Linked DNA regions of Homo sapiens. The protein of the gene in region 1 interacts with the protein of each later gene in a pairwise test. Each region holds a gene or a part of one and is shown in the gene's direction. Other genes may lie near its edges. The genes, in order: PIAS2, LCE1E, RUFY1, EDC3, CREB1, FKBP6 and ZBTB8A.

Evidence for each region.
Region 2: the proteins of PIAS2 (region 1) and LCE1E interact in binary tests that used the Homo sapiens proteins (3 or more experiments, as listed by UniProt).
Region 3: the proteins of PIAS2 (region 1) and RUFY1 interact in binary tests that used the Homo sapiens proteins (3 or more experiments, as listed by UniProt).
Region 4: the proteins of PIAS2 (region 1) and EDC3 interact in binary tests that used the Homo sapiens proteins (3 or more experiments, as listed by UniProt).
Region 5: the proteins of PIAS2 (region 1) and CREB1 interact in binary tests that used the Homo sapiens proteins (3 or more experiments, as listed by UniProt).
Region 6: the proteins of PIAS2 (region 1) and FKBP6 interact in binary tests that used the Homo sapiens proteins (3 or more experiments, as listed by UniProt).
Region 7: the proteins of PIAS2 (region 1) and ZBTB8A interact in binary tests that used the Homo sapiens proteins (3 or more experiments, as listed by UniProt).

The regions. Positions count from the first base shown.
Region 1 is NC_000018.10:46,806,113-46,809,507, reverse strand, and holds part of PIAS2 (E3 SUMO-protein ligase PIAS2), read left to right. Parts: 3' UTR 1-3,395. UniProt on the Homo sapiens protein: Functions as an E3-type small ubiquitin-like modifier (SUMO) ligase, stabilizing the interaction between UBE2I and the substrate, and as a SUMO-tethering factor.
Region 2 is NC_000001.11:152,785,130-152,788,926, forward strand, and holds LCE1E (late cornified envelope protein 1E), read left to right. Parts: upstream 1-1,127; 5' UTR 1,128-1,178; intron 1,179-2,148; 5' UTR 2,149-2,170; coding exon 2,171-2,527; 3' UTR 2,528-3,297; downstream 3,298-3,797. UniProt on the Homo sapiens protein: Precursors of the cornified envelope of the stratum corneum.
Region 3 is NC_000005.10:179,595,554-179,599,053, forward strand, and holds part of RUFY1 (RUN and FYVE domain-containing protein 1), read left to right. Parts: intron 1-350; exon of another isoform or gene 351-1,008; coding exon 1,009-1,128; intron 1,129-1,268; exon of another isoform or gene 1,269-1,408; intron 1,409-2,699; exon of another isoform or gene 2,700-2,802; intron 2,803-3,138; coding exon 3,139-3,268; intron 3,269-3,500. UniProt on the Homo sapiens protein: Activating adapter involved in cargo sorting from early/recycling endosomes. Regulates retrieval of proteins from endosomes to the trans-Golgi network through interaction with the dynein-dynactin complex.
Region 4 is NC_000015.10:74,668,525-74,672,024, reverse strand, and holds part of EDC3 (enhancer of mRNA-decapping protein 3), read left to right. Parts: intron 1-250; coding exon 251-570; intron 571-3,500. UniProt on the Homo sapiens protein: Binds single-stranded RNA. Involved in the process of mRNA degradation and in the positive regulation of mRNA decapping. May play a role in spermiogenesis and oogenesis.
Region 5 is NC_000002.12:207,578,462-207,581,961, forward strand, and holds part of CREB1 (cyclic AMP-responsive element-binding protein 1), read left to right. Parts: intron 1-1,059; coding exon of another isoform or gene 1,060-1,105; exon of another isoform or gene 1,106-3,360; coding exon of another isoform or gene 3,361-3,485; exon of another isoform or gene 3,486-3,500.
Region 6 is NC_000007.14:73,331,161-73,334,660, forward strand, and holds part of FKBP6 (inactive peptidyl-prolyl cis-trans isomerase FKBP6), read left to right. Parts: intron 1-496; coding exon 497-616; intron 617-3,500. UniProt on the Homo sapiens protein: Has an essential role in spermatogenesis. It is required to repress transposable elements and prevent their mobilization, which is essential for the germline integrity.
Region 7 is NC_000001.11:32,591,427-32,594,926, forward strand, and holds part of ZBTB8A (zinc finger and BTB domain-containing protein 8A), read left to right. Parts: intron 1-1,504; 5' UTR 1,505-1,505; coding exon 1,506-2,328; intron 2,329-3,500. UniProt on the Homo sapiens protein: May be involved in transcriptional regulation.

The DNA.
Region 1 (3,395 bases):
CTGGGATTTACAGGCGTGAGCCACCGCGCCTGGCCAAAATAAAATGTTTTTATCTTTCTTCACTTAGAACTATGAAGGCCTTTTCTTGTTCTGGTAACCCCCCACAGTGTAATTGGTGCTGAAAATAGTTTCGTGCCTGAGGTCTGTTGTCACTCACTCACTTTCTGACAATTAGGTGAGCCACTTGAGGATTTTCTGGCCTGAAGTTATAAAAACTTGGCATCTGTCCTAAGGTAATTGTAAAGGCAAAATGAAAGCATTGAGGTGAATTTAGGTTATATGGCATTTATCTGGTAATGTGTTTCAGAAAAGCTAGAATGAAAATGTGATGTAAGGGATAGCAAGTGTAGGTTGATTCATAATTCTTGGTATAAAACCAAGTTTTCCTTAGTCTTGAGGAATTTGAAGAAAGGTAAAATGTTGGATTTTAAGCAAAGTAGGATTGACCAGAGACTGTTCTGACTTTGACATTCAGACCTTTCAGATGTTCTTCCTTCAGACCAGTCCAAGACACTCAGCATTTCCAGCCAAGTTGTCTTTTTTTTCTGCCAATAAAGTATTCATTAGTTGACGTTTGTTTGTATTTTAAGTAAAGTCAATTTTTTTTAAAGCATTAATTTAATTCACGGGTATGCCTTTCATTTCTCTGGCCTTCAGTTGGTTTAAAAAAAAAAAAAAAAAAAAAAGCACTTAGCCGGACCATTCTTTCTTTAGTAAACATTTTTATTTTCTTAATTTTTCCTGAAAGATTTTCTTCATTTTCATGGAATGTCATAATGACACTACCATTATTTTCTAGCTCTTTGCATAATAGAAAAATGTAGAGCAGTGCACCATTTAAACACGTCTGACATTGGATTTAGTGGTCCTAGGTTCATGTGATTTGGGAGCCTTAAGTTGTTATTTAGATTGATTCAGCCTGATTCACCATCTTTTTTACTACAGTTCTACATGAATGTGGTGAAACAGGTAGAAGAAAATTAAGCATTTCTCTGCTTTTGGAGTCTAATGTTCCTGCCTAGTGACTGGTTTGTAACACCCCCCTCACCCCTACTTTGTTAGGAACCTGCAATTCCTAAAAGAAATAAATAAAGCTGTACCCAATGTCCATTCTTTAATGCTTGCCTGGTTGAATAATGTTTGTTTTTTCTGTTTATGTCAGTAGTACATGCTTATTGTGGAAAATTTAGACAATACAGAAAAGTATAACAATTAATTGCCTATGATTCTGTCACCAGAAAAAATCACTTGATATTTTTGCATCTTCCTTGCCATTGTCTTTGCTACTTCTGCATATTTTTACTTAGTTTCATCATTCTCAGTGTAATTTATATCTTGGGGTTTTTCCCCGCAACCTACAGGCATTATTCCATGTCATTAAAACTGTGTCAACTATTATTAATTTTATGGTACTCCATTGTTATGGATGTGCCATGTTTCATATAACCTTTACTTATTTTGAACAGTTTAGATTATATCTCATAATGCCACAATGAATGTCTTTGTGTATAAATTATTTTCTTAGGATAAAATACTGGAGGTGGAATTTCTAGTCAAGGGTATATGAACACTTTTGTAGTTCTTGATTCATACCACTTTTCCACATGGGTATGTTAATTTATACTGCAGCTAGATGGTATGGGAAGGGTGGTCTAGCCATATTTTCCAAGAACATGCAACGTTTTATCTTTATGCAGGCATCTGCACTAAGACCCTCTGCCTTTCTGACTCTATGGAACGGGGTTAACTGATATGGAGATCATTGGCAGAGATTTTCCCAAGCTTTCTTAGTTTTAAATATATCTGACATGGGCCGGGTATGGAGGCTCACGCCTGTAATCCCAGCACTTTGGGAGGCCAAGGCGGGCAGATAATCTGAAGTCAGGAGTTGGAGACCAGCCTGGCTAACATGGAACATGGTGAAACCCCATCTCTAGCAAAAACATAAATTAGGTGGGTGTGATGGCAGGCGCCTGTAGTCCCAGCTACTTGGGAGACCGAGGCAGGAGAATCGCTTGAACCCAGGAGGCGGAGGATTTGCAGTGATCCGAGATTGTGCCACTGCACTCCAGCCTGGGTAACAAAGCAAGACTCTCTAAAAAAAAAAAAAAAAAAAAAAAAAAATATATATATATATATATATATATATATAAAATCTGACATGTTTCAGAAACACCTACGTATGGCTATCCAAGCTTTTCCCATGATTTTACTGGCACTGTAAAGTTGCACAAATATTCTTTGTCAGACTACGTTTTCCATCTTTAGTTCAAAAGTTTTGTCACTTTTTAAAAAAAGCCTCTTGTACCTAAGGCCTGCCCTTAAGAGGTCAGCTCTCTTTTTCCTCTTCCTGTAGGCCCCATTATGGCCTTTCTGAGCTCCCCAAAGCCAGTAGAATCTACTGAGCCAAAGGCATTCCATCCCCAAACTGAAAAGTGGTAAGGCTAAAAGCTATAAAAACAGGCAAACATTGCCTGTTTTCACTTTATATTCCCTTATGTTTCCAATAAGGGTAGCTGCAGGGAAAGAAAAAAACAGATTGCTACCTTCAGATGTTTGAGGTACAACATTTTCTTGATTGGCGTAGCACAATCATTTCCCAAACTGCTTCCTATTTCTGAATGGCTTTTTTAAAAAGCTTTATTTTGTGTTCTCAAAGCTTAATTATTTTAAGTGACGAAGAGTGTTACCGTGTTGTAGAATAGCATATGCCTCTTATTTTGGCCTTCATCAAACTGTTTAATAAATGTTTAGAGTGTTTTGTAAGTACACGTGGAATAGAGTGTTACAGAAGTTTTGGTTCCAGACATCAGGCAGCTTATAATCAAGGTTCCAAAAATCAAGAATTCTTAAGCTGGGCATGGTGGCTCATGCCTGTAATCCCAGCACTTTGGGAAGCCAAGGCAGGCAAATCACTTGAGGCCAGGAGTTTGAGACCAGCCTGGCCAACTTGGTAAAACCCCATCTCTACTAAAAATACAAAAAATTAGGGCATGATGGCTCATGTCTGTAATCCCAGCTACTTGGGAGGCTGAGGGATGAGAATTGCTTGAACCTGAGAGGCGGAGGTTGCAGTGACTCAGGATCATGACCCTGTACTCCAGCCTGGGTGACAGAGTGAGACCAAAAAAAAAAAAAAAAAAAAAAAAAAAAAGTAACAGGCATTGTGCAAAGAATTTTCCAAGAATGTCTCATTCTTGCAATGGCTTCTCAGAGGAAAGTGGTGTTATTCCCCATTTTACAAATGAAACAGGTTTAGGTAAGTTTCCCAAGGTCACAGTGAATGAGTAGTGGACTTGGGAGTCTGACCTAGACTTACCCCAAAAGCTCTCTGCGTAAACTGAAGTGACGTTAATTAGCTGTGCTATCTAGGAGACTGATATGGGAATCTAGAC
Region 2 (3,797 bases), on another chromosome or scaffold:
AAACCAAACAACCCCAAATCCCAGATTTATACCCCACCCCACCCCCCATCTTGGAAAGCAGCTATGACTTCAAAATACCTATTCGTTTATTGACGCATATGTAGGCATCACATTTTTTAAGGGTCTATCATGTCACGGACCTTCTACCAGACTTTTTCCTTATATTATTTTACTGGCTGGCTCAATACCCTGTGAGATATCTGTATCACTATCTGTACTTTTAAACTGAGGAAGAAACAAGAACAACAAACTGAAAAGGAGTCAAGTTAAGTAATTTTCACAAGTATACACAGCTACTAGGTGGCAGAACCAGGGCAGTTTTCTAGCCTGTCTGACTGCAAGCTCTTAAATATAATGGAATGCATCAGGGGTCAGCATTTTTTTTTTTTTTAAAACTCTAAGAGATTAAATGTTTTAGGCTTTGGGAACCATAGCATCTCTATCCCAGTTACTCAGCTCTCCATTTTAGTGTGAAAAGTACCACAGACACAATCAATAAAATAATAAATGTGGCTCATTATCTAAGTCAGAGAAATAAAACTTTATGAAGCCTGAAATTTGAATTTAATATAATTTTTATATGTTGTAAAATATTTTCCTCTTTTGCTTTCTTTTCTCAACAATTTAAACGCATTAAAAACCTTGGAGGCTATCCAAATCAGACAGCAGGCAGATTTGGGCTGCAGACAGAAGTTAGCTGACCCCCAGTAGCCTGGAGGATTATTTAGACTTAAGAGGGAAAATGTGAAAGAATCTCTGAATTACAGTCCAAACTCAGCTGCCAGAAGCCAATGAGTTCCATGGGCAACAAGAAAGAACAAAGGAATTGCAGGCCAGTGTGCAAAAACGAGAACTAAAAAGCGGTCAAGGCTGGGATTTACCAGGAAGAATGGGGCAGAAGGTCCTGTATAAACTGTCCCCACCCTTTGTTTCTAAGCAGCCCTACTCCTATCTAGCAGCAGGTGCCCTCAGCCTGGGGAGGGAGGCAGGTGAGGAGCTGCTAGTCACCACCTATCACAGGACCCACGTGGGTATCAGGGGGCAAGTCCTCTCATGCCCAGGCCCTGTCTCACCACAGGAGGCAGAAACCCAGGCTGGGATAAAAGGGCTCAGGGCCAGAGCACCCCATTCACTCACTTCCTGAGGTGCCGAAGGACCCTGTGCTGCCTGTGACTTTGGTATGTGTCCTCTGGGAACAGAAGCAGGGGATTCCACAGAGGGATGCTCAGATCAGGTTAGGAGGAGTGGTGGGCAGGGCTTCCATGGGGGAGGAGACTGGTAACAACTGGGACAGAAAGAATAACTGGTTGGCTGTGCCTTTGGGCTCCAAAAAAAACTGCTGTAGGGTGGAGCAGTCCTCTCAGGATGGGAAACCTTAAAGCACAGAGACCTGGGGCACTCTGACAGACCACAGGAAGGAAGCCCACCTCTGAAAATACAACCTTGTCCCTGTCTGCAAGGAAGAGCTGGAGCCATGGACAGGGGACCAGAGGCTCCTTTGGGCTTATGGAACCGACACTTTTATGGGTCTGGGATTTGTTCACAAATTTCCCAGGTTGATTAGGACACACCAAACCTGAGACTCACCATGCCCACCCATCAGCCTGAGCAGGTGGTAAGCTGAGGAAATCTGAGCTCCAGCCTAAGATCAGGAGGCCAGGGTTCAAATTCCAGGGCTGCAGGAATTTATGGGTTTGTCTGTCTCTGCTTCAACAAAGTAAGTTTACTGAGCCAGTAATATCCAAGATCTTTTGTAGTATGGATATTGCAGAGTAAAACTACCTTGCAAGTTACAAAAGGTAGTGATTACTTTTTCTCTTTAAGAAATAATTTTCCCTAAATGACCTATAAATCATATAATTTCAGGGTGTGAAGACATATTTGGAATAATTTCCTCCTTCACTTATAACACTTTGGACTGTCAGATGCATTTTGTAATATTGTTTGGTCTTAGTTTACAATTTTGTGTAGCAGATAACACACAAGGGTATCCTGAGCTTGCAAAGAGATGATGAGAGAATTTGGGGAAAGTATTGGAAGTGAAACTACTGGACATGATGTTTCCATAATTACAAGTCATGCTAAGAGTGTCAGAGGGGCAGAGGTGGCCTCTGCCTAGGTCTGATTTTCTGTCTGACTCTCCCTCAGCTCCTAAGTACCTACTGCCGAGATGTCCTGCCAGCAGAGCCAGCAGCAGTGCCAGCCCCCTCCCAAGTGCACTCCCAAGTGCCCTCCCAAGTGTCCCACCCCCAAATGCCCTCCAAAGTGTCCCCCTAAGTGCCCTCCAGTCTCTTCCTGCTGCAGTGTCAGCTCCGGAGGCTGCTGTGGCTCCAGCTCTGGGGGCAGCTGTGGCTCCAGCTCTGGGGGCTGCTGCAGCTCTGGGGGAGGTGGCTGCTGCCTGAGCCACCACAGGCACCACAGGTCCCACCGTCACAGACCCCAGAGCTCTGACTGCTGCAGCCAGCCCTCAGGGGGCTCCAGCTGCTGTGGAGGGGGCAGCGGCCAGCACTCTGGAGGCTGCTGCTGAAGTGGACCTTGACTTCCTCTTCCTTCTGATTCTGCCTGAATAGCTGAGAGGTTCCAGCAAAAGCTTGAAGTCTTGCCTGGAGAATCCCTCTGCTCTGGTGTCAGGAAACCCAAAATCTTTCTCCTTAATGGCATTTAGAGACTTTCTTCTGCAGATCCATGGCTGCCCTGGGAACTCCAAAGCACACACCTACTTCCTCCCCAGCTCACGCTGCTGTATTCTGTGCTGCCTGAACTGAAGAAATAAAATCCAGAATCTGCCCCCCAACTTGCTACCAGCCTGCTTGATTTTCCTGTTTGTGTCATCCTTGTTCTGCTCCCCTGTGTCTGCTGGTGGCTGCTGAGGCCTTGGTGGACAGAGGATGGGGAAAGGGGTCAGGAGGAAAAAGCTTGCATTTCTGTGTGTTTTGTGTTTTTTCTTCTTTCGGTGTTTTCCTTTTAAACCAAGGGACTGAAATAGCATTGAGAAATATTTTTCTTTCAAATTCTGGTTCCTTTCACCTATGTAACCGCATCCCTCAGGCATGGCCAGGAGGCCGACTTCATCCTCCTTCCCACTATCACCTCTTCATTCTTGTGTTCCTCGTTCCCCACTCCTTCCACTAACAATCTCCCTGGACTCCTCCTCCATACTGTATGTGCATGCATTCACACACACATATGTACATGCACATAGATGAGATGAATCTGCATTGTAAAAAAATTAAATCACATTTAGTGCTGTATAATTTGCATGCAATAAAATTCAATAAAATTAAATGTAAAATTAAATGAGTTTTGTCAAATATTTATAGCTGCATAACTATAATTGCAATAACACACCAAAAATGTAGTTAATTTATTGAGAAGATTTTCAAAATAACACAAAATCTAGAATACATAAATGAAAATGTGGATACAGTTAACCACATTAAAATGAAATTCTAAGTATCAGATAGTACCACTAAAAGCAAGGAAGGGTAAAAAATTAACTTGGGAAAATTATAATATATGTGATAGGGAGATGACTCATATTGGTAAGAAACATAGAGTTCATAAAAACTGAGTAAATAAATGTTCCTATAAAAGTTTTGGCAGAATTCATATTTCATTCACAAATAATTAATGAAGAAAACCAATAACTTCTGAAATTAGATTTTAAAAGCAATTTAATCTCATTAATAAAAAGAGCATAGCTCATCTTTTGGGGATGAGAACTCATTATTGGTTCACAAGCTTTCTGTGAGCATTTTAGCTTACAAAACATTGTTGTTGAAGCTATGTGGAAATGA
Region 3 (3,500 bases), on another chromosome or scaffold:
TTTTTTTTTTTTTTTGAGCCAGAGTTTCGCTCTCATTGCCCAGGCTAGAGTGCAATGGTGCGATCTCAGCTCACCGCAATCTCTACCTCCCAGGTTCAAGCAATTCTCCTGCCTCAGCCTCCCAAGTAGCTGGGATTACAGGTGCCTGCCACCATGCCCGGCTAATTTTGTATTTTTGTAGAGATGGGGTTTCTCCATATTGATCAGGCTGGTCTCGAACTCCCGACCTCAGGTGATCTGCCCACCTAGGCCTCCCAAAGTGCTGGGATTATAGGCATGAGCCACCACACCTGGCCAGCTACCGTTTCTTTAATGACAATACCAAGTGCTGATGAGGACACGGAGCTAATGGATCTCTCATACTTTATTGGTAGGAATGCAAAATGGTGCAACCACTCAGGAAAACAGTTTCTCAAGAAGCTAAACGTCCTCTTACCATATGATCCAAATAGAAATGAAACTTATGTCTACACCAAAACTAGTACATATGTTTATAGCAGCTCCGTTCATAACTGCCAAAAGCTAGAAGCAATCCCAATGTTCTGCATTGGGTGATGGATAAACAAAGTGGTACGTCTGTGCGGTGAAGTATGACTCAGCCGTAGAAAGGAATGAACCACTGCCCTTTCAGGACGTTCAGAGAGGAAACAAAAGGCATGAACCATTGATACACATGGAAACTTGGATTGATCTCCAAGACATTATTCTGAGAAAAAGTCAGTCTCAAGGTTATATAATGTATAATTACATTGAGATTACATTCTCAAAAAGCCAAAGCCATATTGTTGCAGGACAGATGAGTGGTTGCCAGGGGCTGAGGTGGGGAGTTTTGGGAGTGGTGGGACCGTCCTGTATTCTGATTGTGGTGGAGCTGAATCTCCACGTGTTAAAACTCACAAGAGTTAATTTTACTGTATGGTAATTTTAAAAATGAATTTCAGCCAGCAAAAGTCATCCTTTCCTTACAAAGATTTGCTTCATTTGCACTCTTGCTGGTGTCGCATCCAGGTTGCAGCACTCGGAGCGGGCGAGGCAGGGGGCTGAGGAGCGGAGCCACAAGCTGCAGCAGGAGCTGGGCGGGAGGATCGGCGCCCTGCAGCTGCAGCTCTCCCAGCTGCACGAGCAATGGTAGGGGCCCTGCAGGGAGCCTGGGCTGGGGTGTGGCTCAGGAGGGACTGGGAAGAACTGGGGACAGGTGGTATCCTGCTTCAGCACGAACGGGAGGAGGGGGGGCGGGGGGGCAGGTGGTATCCTGCTTCACCACTCACCCCTGCAGGGTTCGTATGTTATCCCTAGGGAGCTCCCTCCCCACAGGGCTCCTCACGTGGTCCAGCTCGCCTCCAGAAGATCTGGCCACTCTCAAACCATGGTACCAGGTCACAGCCTGTATCACCCTTAACCACCCTTTCTAAAAAGAAACAGCTTTGTCAGTGTTGAACAGAAAGTCACCTTTCACCTAGCCTTTGCTGATGCAAGCTTCATATAATTTTGTGCACAGTTCATCTACAGATTTTTTATTTTTTAAGTCTCACTCTGTCATCCAGGCTGGAGTGCAGTGGTGCAGTCTCAGCTCACTGCAACCCCCACCTCCTGGGCTCAAGCGATTCTTGTGCCTCAGCCTCCTGAGTAGCTGGGACTACAGGTGTACATCAACACACCCGGCTAATTTTTGTGTTTGTGTTTTGTTTTGTTTTTTTTTTGAGACCGAGTCTCACTCTCTTGCCCAGGCTGGAGTGCGGTGGCGCGATCTCGGCTCACTGCAACCTCTGCCTCCCGGGTTCACGCCATTCTCCTGCCTCAGCCTCCCGAGCAGCTGGGACTACAGGCATCAGCCACCACACCTGGCTAATTTTTTGTATTTTTAGTAGAGACGGGGTTTCACTGTGTTAACCCAGGATGGTCTCGATCTCCTCACCTCGTGATCCTCCCATCTCGGCCTCCCAAAGTGCTGGGATTACAGGCGTGAGCCACTGCGCCCAGCCTAATTTTTGTATTTTTATTAGAGACAGGGTTTTGCCATGTTGGCCAGGCTGGTCTCAATCTTCTGGCCTCAAGTGATCCACCCGTCTCGGCCTCCCAGAATGCTAGGATTACAAGTGTGAACCACCGTGCCTGGCCTATAGATTTTTTGAGATAATATATATGCCAAGTTAAAAGCCTGATGTTGAGAGAAGAGAGAAGAGACATCTTTATTCCCACAAAGAGAGAGCAGACTCCAGGCGGTCCAGCAGTGCCCCCAGGGCCACTCAGCTGGTAAAGGGCAGAGTCAGCTTCAGGCTGAGGCTCCCTCCTGGCCTTCTCCCTCCAGGATCCTTCATTGTCAGTCTGGCTGTAGGTTGTAGAAAGCAGAATGAGGCCGGGCGCGGTGGCTCACGCCCATAATCCCAGCACTTTTGGGAGGCCGAGGCAGGGAGATCACGAGGTCAGGAGTTCAAGACCAGCCTGGCCAACATGGTGAAACGTCATCTCTACTAAAAATACAAAAAATTAGCTGGGCGTGGTGGCGTGTGCCTGTAATCCCAGCTACTAGGGAGGCTGAGGCAGGAGACTAGCTTGAACCCAGGAGGCAGAGGTTGCAGTGAGCCAAGATTGTGCCACTGCACTCCAGCCTGGGCGACAGAGCGAGACTCCGTCTCAAAAAAAAACAAAAAGCAGAATGAATTGGCCAGTGAGGTGGCTCATGCCTGTAATCTCTGCACCTTGGGAAGCTGTGGCGGGAGGATCACTTGAGCCCAGGAGGTCGAGGCTGCAGTGAGCTGAGGTTGCGCCACTGCACTCCAGCTGGGGTGACAGAGCTAGACCCTGTCTCAAAAAAAGAAAAGAACGAATTTTGAGCTTCCTTTCCTCAGGTCTCCATGTCGGGAGGGTTCTGCTTATGTGGTCTAAGTGTTCTAGAGCTCTCTTCCTTCTCCCCTGCGTAAGTGTCAAGTGTGTGCCTGCAGGCTTTTCTCTCCCTGGTTCCTGCTCTTTCTTGTGGAAGGGCAGGTGACCCTGGAGGAGAGGGAAGCGTTGCCGAAGGCTTTAGATGCTCAAGAGGCAATTCAGAGACTTCCCTGTTTCCTGGGCGGTGAATTGGGTTGTGAATCTTCCGTGAAAGTCTCCCACTGAGACTAACTCAAGTTCATTTTGGGAAAACAGCTCAAGCCTGGAGAAAGAATTGAAATCAGAAAAAGAGCAAAGACAGGCTCTTCAGCGCGAATTACAGCACGAGAAAGACACTTCCTCTCTACTCAGGATGGAGCTGCAACAAGTGGAAGGACTGAAAAAGGTGAGGTGGGCCATCCCGGGAGAGGAGAGCCTCTGGCAGCCTCCAGAAACCCCTAACATGCTCCGGGCAGGCTCCTCTCCCCGCACCCTTTGTGTGGGGGCCAGGCGGCTCCAGGGTGTGGGGAGGCTGTTAGGGAGCTCCTGTTTTAGGAGCATAAGACAAAGACAAATCATAAACCACTAAGCCTGCTGGCAGCTCAGATAGAGGCAAGTGCCATGAAGAGAATAAAGCA
Region 4 (3,500 bases), on another chromosome or scaffold:
CTCCCAAAGTGCTGGGATTACAGGCGTGAGCCACCGTGCCCGGCCAATAGCCTCTTTTTAAAGGCTAGCATTGTGTCAGTTGGATAGTTGGTGGCTGACCCCTGTCCTTAAGCACACAGCCCCCTTTCCTAGCCTCTGATAACTCAATAAAATGCAGTCCTGCAAAGGGGTAGCTGTTTGCTAATGATCTCAGTTTCATCATTCTTACCACTATTATAATTTTGAGACTTGGCTTTTTTGTGTATTTCAGGGCAGGTGACATTACGGAGTTAAAAATTCTGGAGATACCAGGACCTGGAGACAACCAACATTTTGGAGACCTTCATCAAACAGAATTAGGCCCCTCTGGTGCTGGCTGCCAAGTGGGCATCAATCAGAATGGCACAGGCAAGTTTGTCAAGAAGCCAGCCTCTTCCAGCAGTGCCCCTCAGAATATCCCTAAGAGGACAGATGTGAAGAGCCAGGATGTTGCCGTTTCCCCGCAGCAGCAACAGTGCTCAAAGAGCTATGTCGACAGGCACATGGAATCCTTGAGTCAGTCCAAAAGTTTCCGTCGTCGGCACAACTCCTGTAAGTAGGGTCAAGTTGATATTTCTTCTCAATCTGGTGTTTCAGGGCTATAAGCCATAAGCACTGCTGCTCTTTAAACAAATCCTTTGTTATTCCAATAAAATGGATGCTGGCTGAGCGTCACAGAAATACAACATGGTTCTCTTCCTCCAGGCCTCATTCCTCAAGATGTTAAGGGAAAGGAAATAAGCTGTTAGGGATGCCTGTGAGCTTCCTGCCCTCTCTTACCACTTCCTTCAGGAAAAGTCTGCCCAGAGTTTACTAACAGTGATGTTTTAAATCCAGGAACTACTGGGCGTGGTGGCACGCATCTATAGTCCCAGCTACTTGAGAGGTTGAGGCAGGAGGATTGTTTGAGCCCAGGAGTTCAAGGCTAGTCTGGGCAAAATAGTGAGATTCTGTTTCTGAAAAAGAAAAAAAAAAAAACTTAAATCCTGTTACTGATGTTGGTAGTAGTGTTTGAGTTGAACCTGCACTTGGGCTGTTCCAGAGGATTCTTGAGTAACTTTTCTTCCTGTGATTTGAGTCTCATCCTCAGAAGAGAGGAGGGGACTGATCCAAACATCTCTGTGATCTTTGATTTTCTAGCAGACAATTTTTAATTTGCTGTATTTGTTCCTACTGACACACCAAGAAGAATGTGCATTGGTCTCTGTTGCTGCCCAGTTTTGTTTGATACTAACACATTATTAAATGCCATTTGCTGATTATAAAACCATAGTTGTGACCAGGCACGGTGGCTCACACCTGTAATCCTAGCACTTTGGGAGGCTGAGGCGGGCAGATCACCTGAGGTCAGGCGTTTGAGGCCAGCCTGGCCAACATGTTGAAACCTCGTCTCTGCTAAAAATACAAAAATTATCCGGACGTGGAGGTGCATGCCTGTAATCCCAGCTACTTTGGAGGCTGAGGCAGGAGAATCCCTTGAACCCAGGAGGCAGAGGTTGCAGTGAGCTGATATTGTGCCACTCCAGCCTGGGCGATAGAGCGAGACTCTGTCTCAAAAATAAAATAAATAATATAAAATAAAACCATAGTTGTGTTGGTGGTATGATGGTGAGCATAGCTGCCTTCCAAAACCATAGTTAATTCACTAGAACTGTTCTTCTCCAACATATTTACTAGAATAATGTTACAATAGCGAATCATAACATTCACTGGAATCTGTTATGCTCCTTAAATTAATATGAATGTTGTTTTAAAAAATTACTTCCAAATGCCAAACTATTCTTATTTTACTTAGATGGTTTTGTACTCACAGATGGTAGCAGAATGTATTAGAAATTTTAAGTGAGAGGCTGGGTGCAAGTGGCTCACACCTGTAATCTCACTACTTCAGGAGGCTGGGGCAGGTGGATCGCTTGAGCCCAGGAGTTCGAGACCAGCCTGAGCAACATGGCAAAACCCCATCCCTACAAAAAAAAAAAAAAAAAAAAAAAAAAAATTAGCTGGGCGTGGCAGCGTGCACCTGTGGTCCCAGCTACTCAGGAGGCTGAGGTGGAAGGATGGCTTGAGCCAGGGAGGCGGAGGTTGTGATTAGCCAAGATCATGCCACTGCACTTCAGCCTGGGTGACAGTGTGAGACTGTCTCAAAATGAACAACCAAAAGAAATTTTAAATGAGTATTCATTAACTCATTTAAAATTATAAGCTAGAGTCATGCTATGGCAATACCTTCTAAAAGGCACAATTTAGAGTGAGCTAGGTCTCTCTAGACCCCACTCAGAAAGTTTATTACATAAAATTCCGGATACTTCTTGCTACCATTGTTGCTCCTCACACTGTGGTCCTGGTGGCAATGTAGTAAGGTTTTAGTGTGCTGGGTGAATTCTATTAGTAGCTTGTGGTGTGACACCTGTGTCAGGGGCCAACATTTTAAGTTTTGGAGATGCCTGATTCAAGTGAATAAACAACTAAATTAAAACTAATTTTTTTTTTTTTTTGAGATGGAGCCTTGCTCTGTTGCCCGGGCTGGAGTGCAGTGGTGTGATCTTGGCTCACTGCAACCTCCACCTCCCATGTTCAGGTGATTCTCCTGCCTCAGCCTCCCTAGAAGCTGGTACTACAGGCACTTGCTGCCATGCCCGGCTAATTTTTTTTTTTTTTTTTTTGAGACAGAGTTTCGCTCTTATTGCCCAGGCTGGAGTGCAATGGCGTGATCTTGGCTCACCGCAACTTCCGCCTCCTGGGTTCAAAAGATTCTCCTGCCTCAGCCTCCCGAGTAGCTGGGATTACAGGCATGTGCCACCACGTCTGGCTAATTTTGTATTTTTAGTAGAAACGGGGCTCCATGTTGGTCAGGCTGGTCTCAAACTCTCGGCCTCCCAAAGTGCTGAGATTACAGGCATAAGCCACTGCGCCCGGCTAATTTTTGTATTTTTAGTAGAGATGGGATAATGCCATGTTGCCCAAGCTGATTTCGAACTCATGACCTCAGTTGATCTGCCTGCCTCGGCCTCCCCAAGTGCTGGGATTACAGACGTGAGCCACTGCACCTGGCCTAAAAAAATGTTTTAATGTATGTAATATACAGTTTCAAGGTAGTTTCCTTTGGTGCATATGAAACAACTATCTGAAATGACGATGTTTGCAAATATGAGACTGAAATTCAGTTGTGACTTCTGTATCCTTAGAAAAACTGTAGAATGCTTGGATAGAAAATGATTCTTTCCATTTAGACTTTAACCTTTTTCTTTCTTTCTTTCTTTCTTTCTTTCTTTCTTTCATTCATTTTTGAGACAGGGTCTTGCTTTGTCACTCAGGTTGGAATGCAGTGATACGATCACAGCTCACTACAGCCTTGAACTCCCAGGCTCAAATGATCCTCCCACCTCAGCCTCCTGAGTAGCTGGGACTACAGGTGTGTGCCACCATACCTGGCTAGTCTTTTTACTTTTAGTAGAGACAAGGTCTCACTATGTTGCCCTGTC
Region 5 (3,500 bases), on another chromosome or scaffold:
AAGCAGGGCTTCCAAGTCCTAGCCCTATCCCTCCATTTTGGGAGAAGGTATTAACCTTCTGTACCTCAGTTTTGTAAAATGGGATTCCAGCACACACCCAAAGTATTGTTGTAAGAGTCAAGTAAGAGAATCCTTTGAAAGCACTTTGTAACTGTAGTGCTCTGTTGAAATGGGTTTGTGTGTGTGTGTGCAATTTCACAGCTCAGATCAGCTTTTTTGTTCCTAAAATATTCTTAGCTGTCACAATGTTAGTAAATTATATCTAAACTCTGAGAAATGGCAGAGATTTTTCTGGGATATTAGAAAAAGAGTTGGAAACAAGCCAAGTGACTTTTTTTTTTTCTCCCGAGATGAAGTCTTGCTCTGTCACCCAGGCAGGAGTGCAATGGTGCAATCTCAGCTCACTGCAGCCTCCACCTCCTGGGTTCAAGCAATTCTCCTGCCTCAACCTCCCGAGTAGCTGGGATTACAGGTGCCCACCACCACGCCTGGCTAATTTTTGTATTAGTAGAGACATGATTTCACTATTTTGGCCAGGCTGGTCTCGAACTCTTGACCTTGTGATCCACCCTCCTCGGACTTCCAAAGTGCTGGGATTACAGGTATGAGCCATGGTGCCCAGCCCTCAAGTGACTTTTATTTGTGCTCCATCCATCTGTGATTTTGAGTATTTAAGTTTTACTAAAGAGAAGCATAAAAGCTGCATTCATAATTCAAATATATTTTAAAATATAAATTAAAATCTGTAAATAAAAATTAAAATATTTTCAGTTTTTAAAAATGTTTATAAGGAAACCTTTAACTTAAAATTAGAAGCAAGTCTGATCAAGAAGTCTCAAGCACAGGCTGAGTAGTAATATTTAAGACAACACTGCTTACTAAAGAAAAGAGTTCAAAGCAAACATAGGAGCAGAATCAAAAAATAAATCCTTTTGATTATAAAAAACAACAGAAGGACTTCTGTTTATGTCTATGTAGTTTGGCTGTGTGGAACAAAATGTTTACCCCCGTTGACTGGCAGACCAAATTTCCTTTTTGTTCTATTTATTTTTCTTTCAGATTTATGACCACTGCCACCAACAAGTTAGGAACAGGGCACACATAACTACAGTTCCTACCAGGCTTTGCTTGCCTGAGATCTTCAGGGAAACTACCCGACTTACCATGGACTCTTTCATAACATTACTTTGCTTAGATATAGTTACCCTACTCTTTAAAAAGGAAACTTCTCATTGATTCTGCCATAGTTCCTTTTCCCCTTTGTTACCAGATTACTGCTGCTTTTACTTTTTCAGCCTCCATTCACTGGAATCTGGCTTCTATGACTAGCATACCGCTCATATGTCTATAAAAAGGTACAAATTCCCTCCCACTTGGCAAATCTAGTATTTTCTTTCATTTAATTTTAACTCTATGGAGTATTTGACACTTTCGACTTCTCATTACTCTAAACTCTTCCTTGGCTTACTTCACCTGGTTTTCTGGCTACTTTTCAAATTTTTCCTTTGAACCTTCATCCATACCCATGTATTTCAGGCATTACTTTATATGCTGATACTTCTTAATTCTGTATATTCTGGCTTTGACCTTTCTGCCGAGTGCTATTTATTAAGCTCCAGTATATATTATTTTATTAATTCTACCTACAGTGAGGTAGAAGCTTATCCCCACTTTAGAGGAGGAGAAGGTAAATATCAGAAAATTCAAATATTTTGCCAAAGGTCACACACTTTATGAGATTAGTAGAACTGAAATTTGAACCCATATCTGGCACCAAAACCTGTAAACATGCTACTTCACTGATTCCAGTATGCAGCCATCTTCTGCTGTGCCTCTCAAACCAGAGCACATGGCAGTATGCTAGGGATGTGTAGCCTAAGGAGGTGAACGTGGAGTGCTTTCCTTGAATGTTCATTTTGCTAAAATATTTGAGAGAAATAAACCTTATTTTTAAGGTAAAATAAGAGTTTTAAAAGAAATTTATACCAGCAGTGGTTTTGCTGCACCCCCAGAGTCTCCATATTTGGTTTCCTCTTCTAGTGTGGCTATTTCAGTGGAAAAGTTAAGAGAAGCACACTCCTAAGCATGCTCACTAGGATGAATTTCCCTTATGCACATCAAACACAGCCTATCTTAAAGTTTGATAGGAAAAGATTGTAATCCAAAAAATTCATCACTATCCAAATTGCCATTTATTTCAAGATGAAGGTAAGTGGTAAACATTCTAAAAGAAAGTGTAGACAGCTCTTCTGTTAATTTGTGTTGCTACAGTAACAACCACGAATCTCAGTGTCTTAAAATTTCTTCCTCACTTCTGTTACATTTTGGCAGCTGCAGGTCAGTTGCTGTGGCTCTCCTTCATGTGCCCATCTGGGTCTAGGATCCTGGGCTAGATAGAGCAGCACGTCTTTGAGAAAAGGGCAATGCTTTTGAAAGCATTTGCTTGATTTTGGTGAACGTTACATCTACTCGTGATCTGTTAGCCACAGCACAGGCAAGGACAAGCCCAAAGTCAGTGGAGTGGGAATGAACTCTTCCTACAGGAAGTGGAGAGTGAAAAATTGTGAAAGTAATACAATCTATCACCTTTGCCTTTATGTAACTTTACATTGTAGGGGGATTTTAAAAGCAGATTCCCTAAAGGCAGAAGTAACAAAGGAAAAGGTTAAATGGATTTGACCATATAAAACTATAAACCCCCTATTTAGGAAAGTAAAAGATAAAGTAGCAAACATTTTAACAAATAATGTCAGAAGACTAATGAGTTGAGGGATATAAATAGGCAGATTCTTAGAAAATGGATAGGGTAAAAAATTTGAAAAATTCTAAAAAAATTAAAATGTATTTGATATGAATTAAAATATATCCATTCAACTATATACAACTAGCCATTAAGAGTAAATAAAGGTGTATTTTTATTAAGATGGGAAGATGTTCTCGGACAAAAGCAGGTTACCAAAGAGTATTTACATTACTATCAGGTTTTTTAAATTTATTATTACACAAGTAAAACATGTTCATTATAAGTAAATTAAGAAACATTACCTAAAAATTGAATTACTTCTAATTTCACCATCTAAAATGTTAACATTCTAAAGTCAGTTTTTTTACTCAAACCAGTACAAAGGTAAATATACATTTTTAATATATTTTTAAGTAATTTTAAACTTACAAAGGAGTTTTAAAAATACAGAGTTCCGGATACCCTTCATCCAGCTTTCTCTAATCTTAGTATATTACATAACCAGGGTACATTTATCAAAAATAAAAGTACATTGGTATAATACCATTAACTGAATTATACATTTTATTTCCCCAGTTTTTTTACTTACATAATCCAGTTTGGGTACCATATCGCATTTAATTATAGTCTCCTTCAGTCTGTGAAAGTTTGTTTCCTTGTCTTTGATGGCCTTGTAACTTTTGAAGAGTAGTGATCTGTTTTCTTTTAGAATATCCCTCAGTTTGCATTTGTCCAGTGTTTTCTATGGATAGATTGA
Region 6 (3,500 bases), on another chromosome or scaffold:
CTCTGAAGATGGCCAGGGCAGAGCATCATGACCATAAAGACTGCCAGGGCCCTGAGCAAACCAAGACCTGTTCAGTGCTTGGTGGCCAAATAGTGGTTTTGAGCACTGACTTCTGTGCTTGGCAAGTTCCGTCAGTTTTTGATTCCATGGGACACTGCTTCCTCAGAGAACATCAGGGGAAGACTGAAGACGTAGACTTCCTTCTGGCTCTAGGGTGTAAAATGGGACAGGTTATAACACTGGTGTGGCTTCTGTCAGATTCAGAGGTGACTCCAACACAGAAGGCTGTAAACAGAAGTGCATGATCTGAAAAAGAAGAGCTCACAGCTGTAGTAACACTTCCTTTCTTTCAATTACTATTTTTTTAAATGGAGACATGTTCTCACTATGTTGCCCAGGCTGGTCTCGAACTCCTGGGCTCACGTGTACTAACACTTCCATTGTGGCATTACTGCTTTTGGTTTCCTTGCTGAATATTCCTGTCTCTGGTCCTCAGGAGCAGCAAGACCAATTTCCACTTCAGAAGGTCCTGAAAGTGGCAGCTACGGAACGGGAGTTTGGCAACTACCTTTTCCGCCAGAATCGTTTCTATGATGCCAAAGTGAGATATAAAAGGGTGAGAATGCTTTGAAAGTTAAGTGTAAGTTTAGATCCTGAAAACTTCCTTGTTTAAAAAACACAGATTTTGTTTTGTTGTGATTTTTGTTTTGTTTTGTTTTTGAGACAAGAGTGTCGCTCTGTCGCCCAGGCTGGAGTGCAGTGGCGCAATCTCAGCTCACTGCAAGCTCCGCCTCCTGGGTTCACGCCATTCTCCTGCCTCAGCCTTCCAAGTAGCTGGGACTACAGGCACCCGCCACTTCACCTGGCTAATTTTTTTGTATTTTTAGTAGAGACAGAGTTTCACCGTGTTAGCCAGGATGGTCTCAATGTCCTGACCTCGTGATCTGCCCACCTCGGCCTCCCAAAGTGCTGGGATTACAGGTGTGAGCTACCGCGCCCGGCAAAAAACACAGATTTTTGTCTTTCTCCCTACTTTCTATGAGCAGCCATTAAGAAAAATCTCATTTAAAAAAATCCTCATGCCAGGCCAAGGCAGGTGGATCACCTGAGGTCAGGAGTTTGAGACCAGCCTGGCCAACATGGTGAAACCCCGTCTCTACTAAAAATACAAAATTAGCCGGGCGTGGTGGTGGGTGCCTGTAATCCCAGCTACTTGGGAGGCTGAGGCAAGAGAATCACTTGAACCCAGGAGGTGGAGGTTGAGGTTGCAGTGAGCCGAGATTGTGCCGTTGCATTCCAGCCTGGGCAAGAAAGGCAAAAAAACTCCCATCTCAAAAAAAAAAAAAATCCTCATGCCAAAGGGATAAGTACTGGAGAGGGGACTAACGGGGGGATAAGGGCTGAAGAGGGGACTCTCGAGGGGATAAGGGCTGGAGAGAGGACTCACGGGATTGGGAGGCACCTGGGAATGTTCTGTGTTTTGACGTGGTTCTTGGGTACATGGGTGTGTTCAGGTTGTGAAAAACATTTGCCTCTGTATATGTACTTGAACTAGAAGTGTTTAGAATTTCCATCTCACTGCTCTAAAACAATTCAGTTTATTAACTTTTAAAAATTCTCATCCCAGTGCTTATTAGGTCCTCCACCAACCGATTTCTCCACCCCTTTGCCATCATCATTTCATGTCTCTGACAGTGGAGGCTCATTTGGCGATTCTAGCCTGAGGCAATTGCAGCCTCATCAAGCCTCCTGTTGTGATTTTGCTTCTTGTGTAGGTTATGCTGAGCTGTTTTCTGTTTCCTTTTTAATTTTATTCATTCAACAAACATGGCTGGACGCAGTGGCTCATGCCTGTAATCCCAGCACTTTGGGAGGCTGAGGCGAGTGGATAGCTTGAGGTCAGGAGTTTGAGACCAGCCTGGGCAACGTGGCGAAACCCCGTCTCTACTAAAAATACAAAAATTTGCTGGCATGGTGGTGGGTGCCTGTAATCCCAGCTACTTGGGAGGCTGAAGCAGGAGAATCACTTGAACCCAGGAGGCGGAGGTTGCAATGAGCCAAGATCGCACCACTGCACTCCAGCCTGGGCAACAGGGCAAGATTCTGTCTCCAAAAAAAAAAAAAACAAAACACCACACATGCGTGTGCTGTCTCTGGAACATACTCATATAGGCCAAATGTTGCCGACCCTGTCACCCAATATCTATTCCCCCTTCTCCTAACAGAACCTCCCATTTCACTCAAAGCATCAGTGTACTAATTAAAAAACTACATCTTCCCAGCTTCCCATGAGCTTAGGGTGTCCCTGTAACAAGGGTCTAGCCAAGGAGACATAAAGGGAAACCTCTGGAGGGTCTTCCAGAAAGCTCTTAACATAACACAAGCACCAGACTCTTCTCCCCTCCCTCCTTCCCACCCAGGTGACCCCGCAATGCGTGGCCAGGGGAGAATCTCCCTGGGGCCCGCCACACAGCTCTTGTCCTGGGGCTGCCCTATAATGCTAGTTTGTGGATTTCCTGTTTTTTTCTCAACTTACTCCTTTGTTTTAACAGAGTATGTTGATGTATGTCTAAAATATTCTTGGTTTTTAAATACATATTTGTCTAGAGTTGTTATTAAAAAGTCTTTTGGCTGGGCACGGTGGCTCATGCCTGTAATCCCAGCACTTTGGGAGGCCGAGGCGGGTGGATCACCTGAGGTCAGGAGTTCAAGACCAGCCTGGCGAACATGGTGAAACCCCGTCTCTACTAAAAATACAAAAATTAGCTGGGCGTGTTGGTGGGTGCCCATAGTCCCAGCTACTTGGGAGGCTGAGGCAGGATAATTGCTTGAACCCGGGAGGTGGAGGTTGCAGTGAGCCAAGATGGCATAATTGCACTGCAGCCAGGGGAATAAGAGTGAAACTCCATCTCAAAAAAAAAGGTCTTGCTAGTTCTGAGCTCAAAGCTAACAACAACAACAAAAAAATCTTACTACTACTTAGGTTCTTTATTCCTTTCTACGTGACCTGTTTTTTCTTCTGTAGAGACGAAGATCGTTTTTCCCCGGCATTCCTAAATTTTACGGTGATGTGCCTCTGCGTGTGTGTATCTTTTCATTCAGGAAACTTTTCCTCCACTCTGGGAAACTTTCTTGAGTTATTTCTTTGATAATTTACTCTTGTTCCCTCTGCCCTCTTTGTCTGGAACTCCTATTATCAGACCTCCTGCACTGAGCTTCTGGCTGCTGTCCCTCCCCCCTCCCCACCTAGTTTCCATCTTTTCTCCTGTTTGTGTCATGTATGGAAGCTTTCCTTGACTTTTTGCCACCTCTTCTGATGAATTTTTCATTTAAAACTGGGGGGCCAGGCACAGTGACTCACACCTATAATCCCAGCACTTCAGGAGTCCAAGGTGGGAGGATTGCTTGAAGCCAGGAGTTAAAGATCAGTCTGGGCACCATAGCAAGATCCCATCTCTACAAAAAATAAATTTTAGAAAATTGAAGGGCTATTTGTTCTT
Region 7 (3,500 bases), on another chromosome or scaffold:
CAGGCTGGTCTCACACTCCTGGGCTCAAGCTGTCCTCCTGCCTCTGACTCCCAAAGTGCTGGGATTATAGGCGTGAGCTACCACCCTGGGCTGGAGTCTTTGTTTAATGTCTGATAACACTTTTAGACTGAAAACAACATGAAGGCAAAAATCAAATGTGTTGGTTCAGCATATAGCAGAAGGCCTGATTTATTGAAGATGCTTGGCTGGATGCAGTGGCTCATGCCTGTAATCCTAGCATTTTGGGAGGCTGAGGCCAGAGGATCGCTTGAGCCTAGGAGTTCAAGACCAGCCTGGGCAACATAGACCTCATCTCTATATTTAAAAAATGAAAGAAGATGCTCAATAAATTTTGCTAATAAAACAAGTAATTTTCTAAAATCTAATAACGGTCTAGTTGTTTTTTTGTTTTTTGTTTGTTTGTTTGTTTGTTTTTTCAGACAGGGTCTCACTCTGTCGCCAGGCTGGAGTGCATGGCGCAACCTCGGCTCACTGCAACCTCTACCTCCCAGGATCAAGCGATTCTCCTGCCTCAGCTCCCGAGCAGCTGGGACTACAGGCACGCACCACCATGCCCAGCTAATTTTTGTATTTTTAGTAGAGACGGGGTTTCACCATGTTGGCCAGGATGGTCTCCATCTCTTGACCTTGTGATCTGCCCGCCTTGGCCTCCCAAAGTGCTGGGATTATAGGCGTGAGCCACCACGCCTGGCTGATAACAGTCTAGTATTAAGTGATATGTTGAAACCTATTATCTTCTGTGTCTTGGCGATTATATTCTCCAACAAGAAAGTGTTCTTAATGGAATAAAAGAGGCTTCTGATTATTATTTTAGTTGACTCACCTTAGAAAAGGATTGTTCATTTTGGGAGGCTGAGGCAGGAGGATTGCTTGAGCCCAGGAGTTGGAGACCAGCTCGGGTACGTGGTGAGACCTTATCTCTATTAAAAACAAAAAAACAAAAAAAAACAGGCATGGTGGTGCACACCTGTAGTCCCAGCTACTTGGGAGGCTGAGGTAGGAGGATCACTTGAAACCAGGAGTTCAAGGTTGCAGTGAGCTTTTTTTGTTTGTTTGTTTTTGGGGTGTTTGTTTTTTGAGATAGAGTCTTGCTCTGTGGCCCAGGCTGGAGTGCAGTGGTGTGATCTTGGCTCACTGCAACCTCCACCTCCCAGGTTCAAGCGATTTGTCTGCCTCAGCCTCCTGAGTAGCTGGGATTACAGGCACCCGCCACCACGCCCAGCTAATTTTTGTATTTTTGGTAGAGACAGGGTTTCGCCATGTTGTCCAGGCTGGCCTCGAACTCCTGACCTCAGGTGATCTCCCCCGCATTGGCCTCCCAAAGTGCTGGGATTACAGGAGTGAGCCACTGTGCCCAGCCACAGTGAGCTTTGATCACACCACTGCACTGCAGCCTGGGCCACAGAGCAAGATCCTGTCTCAAAACAAAATAAAATAATTGTAATGTAGGTTTTGGTAACCACATGTGTCTTTTCCTCTTCAGAATGGAGATCTCCTCTCATCAGTCTCACCTCCTGCAGCAACTGAACGAGCAGCGCAGGCAAGATGTATTTTGTGACTGCAGTATTCTAGTTGAAGGGAAGGTCTTCAAAGCACATCGAAATGTATTATTCGCTAGTAGCGGCTACTTTAAAATGCTTCTTTCTCAGAATTCAAAGGAGACGAGTCAGCCAACCACAGCTACATTTCAGGCTTTCTCCCCTGACACTTTTACAGTTATCTTGGACTTCGTATATTCTGGCAAACTGTCTCTTACTGGTCAGAATGTCATAGAAGTGATGTCGGCTGCTAGCTTCCTTCAGATGACTGATGTCATAAGTGTATGTAAGACTTTTATTAAATCTTCCTTAGACATTAGTGAGAAAGAAAAAGATCGCTATTTCAGTCTCTCAGATAAAGATGCCAATTCTAATGGTGTAGAACGTTCCTCTTTTTATAGTGGTGGCTGGCAAGAAGGAAGCAGTTCTCCACGTTCTCACCTAAGCCCAGAGCAAGGAACAGGTATAATAAGTGGAAAATCTTGGAATAAGTATAATTATCATCCAGCCTCCCAGAAGAATACTCAACAACCCTTGGCCAAGCATGAACCAAGGAAAGAGTCCATTAAAAAGACCAAACATTTGAGATTGTCACAGCCTTCTGAAGTTACTCATTATAAGTCAAGCAAACGAGAAGTACGAACATCTGATTCTTCCAGCCATGTTTCCCAGTCTGAAGAACAAGCACAGATTGATGCTGAAATGGACTCTACTCCTGTTGGCTATCAGTACGGTCAAGGATCTGATGTCACATCCAAAAGCTTTCCAGGTACCCAAAAAGAGCATAAGTCCCCTCATCCAGGTTCCAAACTGCTATATTAATCAGTCTACTGTCAAAACACCCTTAGTTTCAGGTGCTCTAAGCAGTTGAAGCAAGTGATTTTTTTCAAAAGTTCTATTTTTGTAATGAAATTTATTTAGTAAGGATAGGCGTGGTGGCTCACGCCTGTGATTCCAGCAGTTTGGGAGGCTGAGGCGGGCAGATCACCTGAGGTCAGGAGTTCGAGACCAGCCTGGCCAACATGGCAAAACCCCGTCTCCACTAAAAGTACAAAAAAATTAGCCGAGCATTGTGATGTGTGCCTGTAATCCCAGCTATTCAGGAGGCTGAGGCAGGAGAATCACTTGAACCCGGGAGGCGGAGGTTGCAGGGAGCTGAGATTACACCACTGCACTCCATCCTGGGCGATAGAGTGAGACTCTGTCTCAAAAAAACAAAAAAAGAAGAAATTCATTTCATAAAACGTGGATTTAAATTTTTTAATTCAAAATAATATTGAATAAATATAATGACAATCAAAATAATAAGAATACTAAGGGTCAAAACCCATGATTTTCCAAACCTGTATCTGTGGGTGGTTAGATTACTCTTAAATGTTTAAAGCTCTTTTCTAAATAGTTCAATCCCTGAGACACATATTTTCACTTTAAATAGTTTTTTTTTTTCCTGTGTACTTACTCAGAGGAGTATTTAGCTTATTAAGATACAAATACAGGCCGGGCACAGTGGCTCACGCCTGTAATCCCAGCACTTTGGGAGGCTGAGGCGGGCAGATCATGAGGTCAGGAGTTCAAGACCAACCTGACCAACATGGTGAAACCATGTCTCTACGAAAAATACAAAAATTAGCTGGGAGTGCTGGCGCATGTCTGTAATCCCAGCTACTCAGGAGCCTGAGGCAGAAGAATCGCTTCAGGAGAACCCAGGAGGCAGAGGTTGCAGTGAGTGGAGATTGCGCCATTGCACTCCAGCCTGGGCAACAGAGCGAAACTCTATCTCAAAAAAAAAAAAAAAAGCATAGCAGTCTGAATTTACCCAACTTTCTAAATATATCAAATACCGAAGTTAAAGTTCCATACTTAGGATTACATTGACAATCTAGTCTTAATAAAATTTCTTTCGTCTCTTACTTTTTGGGCTAACCAACTCCTTGTGAATTC